2 separate regions of the Homo sapiens genome follow, and region 2 is linked to region 1. The links come from fine-mapping of genetic effects on gene expression. A gene starts in region 1. The other region holds a variant in brackets. All regions are shown on one strand. Distances are between the middles of the regions. Region 1 holds the start of ATR (ATR checkpoint kinase). Region 2 overlaps XRN1 (5'-3' exoribonuclease 1).

The links. PIP is the estimated chance that this variant, and not a neighbour inherited with it, causes the effect.
Region 2: its variant is the best candidate, but not a certain one, in a credible set for the expression of ATR in whole blood (TOPMed, PIP 0.77).

Annotation. Positions count from the first base shown.
Region 1 is chr3:142,577,736-142,580,235 of GRCh38, reverse strand. ATR (ATR checkpoint kinase) reads left to right here and starts at 1,503. Exons shown (of 47, transcript NM_001184.4): 1 at 1,503-1,590. The coding sequence starts at 1,532. RefSeq lists enhancers at 1,153-1,252, 1,553-1,712.
Region 2 is chr3:142,381,797-142,384,831 of GRCh38, reverse strand. It overlaps XRN1 (5'-3' exoribonuclease 1), which reads left to right. Exons shown (of 41, transcript NM_001282857.2): 21 at 147-309; 22 at 1,419-1,532. Among named protein-coding and RNA genes, the nearest start is that of XRN1, 65 kb to the left of the region's middle. The variant TA/A (reference allele first, on the strand shown) is at 1,786.

The sequences.
Region 1 (2,500 bases):
ACCTATGTGCCAGGCACAGTTTTAGGTCCTGGGTATCTGAGAGTGAACAAAATAGACAAGACCTTGCTCTCCAAGAGCTTACACTCTAACTGGAGAGAGACAATAATATAGTATGTCCGGGTGTGGTGGCTCTCACCTCTAATTCTAGTACTTTGGAAGGCTGAGGTGGGAGGAGCGTGTGAGGCCAAGAGTTTGAGACCAGCCTGGGCAACATAGCAAGACCTTGTCTCTACAAAAAATAATTAGCCAGGCGTGGTGGCATGTCTGTAGTCCCAGCTACTCAGGAGGCTGAGGCAGGAGGATCAATTGAGCCCAGGCTGAGGTGAGAGGATCGCTTGAGCCTGGGAGATTGAGGCTGCAGTGAGCTATGATTGCAACATTCATTGCACTAGAACCTGAACAACAGAGTAAGACAATGTATCTAACAAAAAAAAGAGGGTGAGACAGAATGTGTATATATGTTAGTCTATATGAGGCTCTTTGGTGTTAATTTGGCAAACACCTGAAGGAAAAAGGGCAATGACAGAGTGGTGTTCAAGGCAGAGAGTACAGCAAATGCAAAGTTCTTGAGGCAAGAGCATATTTGGCTGTCATTCCATCACTTTTTTCTTTAAGATACTGTATCGGTTAACTATCCTCATGTACCAAAGAACAAATGTAAACATACTGCATGACTTTGAGTGATTAACTACATAACTTTGACATGTCAACAATCTCTTATGGTGGTCATCTTTCCAATAAATTGAGTTGAGCTAGAAAATGTGTATTGCCAAAATCCATTGATTTACTTTAAAAATTAAATCACAGGTTGCGGATGCCCGTAATGGTGGCATTTCCACACACAGTACTGTTGCTGATTTGATGAGACACAAATATATTCCAACCCCATTTTCAAATATTAAAAGTTGGTAGGGTCCTCAACGAAACCTAACAGTGACTTCAAGTTGAAAAAAAATGCTTAAAAGGAAAAAAACAGGGAGAGCCCACCTTTTGGCCTGTATCTCTCAGAAAGAGGGACAAGAGCGGTGGGAACGTGAGGAACTTTTAAAATGTGAGAGCGTTACTCTGGGGAAACCTGGAGTTTACTCTTGGCCTTTACTCGCTGGACTGTCATAGTTCTCACATTTGTGAAGCGAGTCTGGGCTGGCGGCCCTCAAGCCCTATCCTCCCCCGATGCGGAAGTCTTGCTTCTCTGTGCCTCCCAGGCTTGAGAACAGCAGAGTCTGGCCGCTCAAAACGAAAGCTTCACGAACGTCGCTCGCTCGGTGCTGAGAAAGAAGCCTGACGCGACCCGGGAAACTTGACCGACGCACGCCCGCCCGCTTGCCCCGCCCCCTAACGGCTTCCCGGCTTCCCCCGGGTCCTATGCAGAAAAGACGCTGGGCCTGGCAAGCGGGGCCAGTAGCGGCTTCCGGGAGGAGTTTTGGCCTCCACACGGCTCCGTCGGGCGCCGCGCTCTTCCGGCAGCGGTAGCTTTGGAGACGCCGGGAACCCGCGTTGGCGTGGTTGACTAGTGCCTCGCAGCCTCAGCATGGGGGAACATGGCCTGGAGCTGGCTTCCATGATCCCCGCCCTGCGGGAGCTGGGCAGGTAGGGCTAGGCCCAGCCTGGGTCCTGCATCCTCCTCCGCTGATTCCGGCTTGGGTTTCACGTGCTCTCCCCTCCCCTGCTGCGCTATGGCTGGGATCCCCTAAGCCCCCGCTGCGGCCCTTGTGGAGATGCTCCGTGGCTGATTTGGGCGCTTCTCCCTCAGAGTGCCCGTTGATAGCACATGGGGCAGTCGCCACAAACCTGCGGGAAGCCGGTCCGTGGGGGAGAGAGGCGTCTGCCGGCCCTGGTTTACCACTCACCCCGATCGAGAGTTTGCTTCCTGCAGCTGGAGGAAGAGTCCCTGCTGATCGCTTTCTGGTCACTTTTCTACACTCATTTTCTTCTCGAAAATCTTTTTCCTTAGACGAGGGACTTGACCCATCAGTTTCTGTTCTTTGTGATCACTCGTGGAGGAATTGGTTTTTAGCCTTACATTTTGTCCCCAAACTGCCCTTGAAAGAAAATCACCGCTTCTCATTTTCTGCAAGTGACATCACTTGCTGGAAAAGGCAGTTTTTTTCTTTGAAGTGAAGTCATAGTACATACTGAAGATGTGACCTCCCTCGTATTGATCGTCCAGTTCCCGATCCGTTATTTTAGTCAGAAATTGGAGAGATAGACCCCTGGGTCCACAAAATCTCAGCGTGCACAGAGTGTTGCCAAAATTTGGAGACAATTTAATATTTCATTTGCAAATGCATGTTGTCTGTAAACCTCATGAAAACCAGTATCTTACCACAAGGAGGGAGAGGTGTTGATGGCTCTCACACCTCTTCAATACACAGGCAGGCTTCCCTGAACCAGGCCTAAAGACTCGGTAGAGCTTGTTTTGCTTTGTTTGTTTTAATTCTACACTACTGCGAACAAGAAATAAATAAGCTTGTGCTGCTACCGCAGTTAAATTATCATT
Region 2 (3,035 bases), 200 kb after region 1:
AGGTACCTGGAACTGCTAGCGTATTTATTTAAAGTTTATTTACACACTTGATTATGAGTTGATAGTTTACGATAGTTGACGATTATCGTCCTAGAATATCTGCATACTCATTCATATGTATATTTCATGTTTATTCTTTATTTTAGCTACCTGAGAAGAAAAGGAATAATAATAAATGAAACATCTGCAGTTGTGTATGCTCAGTTACTCACAGGTCGTAAATATCAAATAAATCAAAATGGTGAAGTTCGTCTAGAGAAACAGTGGTCAAAACAAGTTGTTCCTTTTGTTTATCAAACTATTGTCAAGGTAAGTCTATATCAAGTTTCAATTCTGTCTTAATATACACTATTAATACACTATTCACTGTATAATGAAAAGATATGTTAATATAAATAGACTAATTCAGCAATGTATAATAGAGATTATCATTTAATATAATTTACAAAATAACTTATTATTTGTAAGAAGTATTACATGCTCAGACACTCAGTATATATAGTTAGGAAACTTGTCTTTTATGCTTTCGTATGCTTTTTTTTTTTTCTTTTTTTTTTTTTGAGACAGAGTCTCGCTCTGTTGCCCGGGCTGGAGTGCAGTGGCGCCATCTCGGCTCACTGCAGGCTCCGCCTTCTGGGTTCACGCCATTCTCCTGCCACAGCTTCCCGAGTAGCTGGGACTACAGGTGCCCGCCAGCACACCTGGCTAATTTTTTGGTATTTTTTAGTGGAGATGGGGTTTCACCATGTTAGCCAGGATGGTCTCAATCTCCTGACCTCGTGATCCACCCACCTCGGCCTCCCAAAGTGCTGAGATTACAGGCGTGAGCCACTGCGCCCAGCCTTTTATGGTTTTTTTTAAGGACTTAGACTCTAAAAGAAAAAATCCCACCATTAACTTACACCCTTGAATTTTATATTTTTATTCTTCAAAAATGTTTGCCTTAAATCTTATAAATGTAAAAGGCATTTTATTTTTGCATTTATAATCTTAGATACGATAAGAGGACAAAAATTTTTTTAAGTATGTAGCGATCCTGTAATTTGGGGTGTTATAGTACAGTGTAGTGATTAAGTGACTTAAGAACACTGGCTGCCTGAGTTGGCTTCTTAGCTGCATGACCTTGGACAAGATTCATCCCCTTTCTGTGCCCCAGTTTTGTCATCTGTAAAGTGAGGCTAATAATGGTCTCTGCCACAGAGGTTTGTCATGAGGATTAAATGAACTCAATAAATGTGTGAAGCACATAGAAGGGTGCCTGCCATATAACCAGTCAACAAATTTTAGCTCTTGGCATTATGTAGAAAAATCTTCACATTGACATTTGCAAACAGCATAGTCATAATCCCATAGGAAAAAAACTTGATACGCAATCTATAGAAATTATGACTAAGATTATTTACTTTTATTTTATGTAGGACATCCGAGCTTTCGACTCCCGTTTCTCCAATATCAAAACATTGGATGATTTGTTTCCTCTGAGAAGTATGGTCTTTATGCTGGGAACTCCCTATTATGGCTGCACTGGAGAAGTTAGTTTCCATTATTGTTACTGATACATTTTTCTCTAGTTTAAAGCAGTTACTTAACTTCTCTTCATTTAGGTTTAAATTAAAATATAATAATGAAGGGAAAAAATAAAGAATTTATCCATGTAACTTATGAACACAGTGTTTGACTTATATATCTAAATACTATATATCTAAGACTAAAGACCATATACTTTTAGTCTTGAGCAGATTAGGATCAAGAGGTGGTGTGTTCAAATCCTGATCTCTTTTTTTT[TA/A]GCAGTTTTGTTTATTGTAGTGGTATGGATGAAACGATTTTGTAACTATTTTAGACATGTAATAGGCTTGAGTGAATTTGTAAATGCGTTCATATTTGAGGAACTTTGGTTCTTAAATGGAAAAAGGTACATGCAAATATGGAAGGAGAGAAAGCAAGAAAGAACCTATAGGGACAGATTTGGAAGTATTAGTGTGAACTCTTGGTTTCTAAAATATGTATATATGTTTGTATATCTGTGTATATAGGCACATATATATGTGTATATATATATACACGTATGCATATGTTTCTAGCTCTATTTGCTGAAAGGAATAAGAAGCAAAGACACCTTAGCACAATGAGCACATGTACCACCCAGATCTTGACGTCTAATTTCATAACTCACTAAAAGGAACAGGGCTTCTCAGAGAAATTGCTGATTCTGGATCTGGGGCAGGGAAGATACAAGATGAACCTGGAACATCTTGTTATGTCAGAAAGTAAGGAGGTGCTCAGAAGAATGGTGGGAGTATGTCATGTAAACACAGGAACCAGGTTGAGGGTACTACCACTGCCCAAATCTTGGATACTTTGAGTGACAAAATAATTAAATTCAGTAGTTAATTATAAACCACTGGGGGGAAAACAGGAATTCATGATTCCGTAGTGACAGTAAAAAGATAAATAGGGAAAGGAAGGTCTCTTGTCTGTAGTAGCATGTAAGAAGTAAATTTGGAGAGAGTGCTGCAGTTGAAAAACCATTGTGCAACCATTATGATAAAGATTGAATCATGTAAGAATCATCTTTGGGAACTAAATCTAGGGGGCATTTTTTTTTTAAATCAGGAGCAGGATATTTGCATGGTCTTAGAATGTATCTCCTACAGATTATTTATTAGCTGCAAGGGAAACGAAAACTGTAATTATGCAGGAAAAAAATTGAGCAACATATTAATGGTATAATCAAAGTTAGCATCGCATTAAAGGACAGATGAACATTGTGTACCTCCAGATGTAATACCCTTTGGAGGACACATCACCTATGCAGTATTCTGGCTGTGAATGTACTACCATAACCTAATTATGTGGAAGCATCAAACAAACCCAAAATAAGGAACTGTTTTTTTGTTTTGTTTTGTTTTTAAAAGGCAGGTTGGAGAGGGAGGGACAAATTATATATTCTTCAAAATGTCAATGTTGGCTGGGTATGGTGGCTCACTCCTGTAATCCCAGCACTTTGGGAGGCCAAGATAGGCAATCACTTGAGG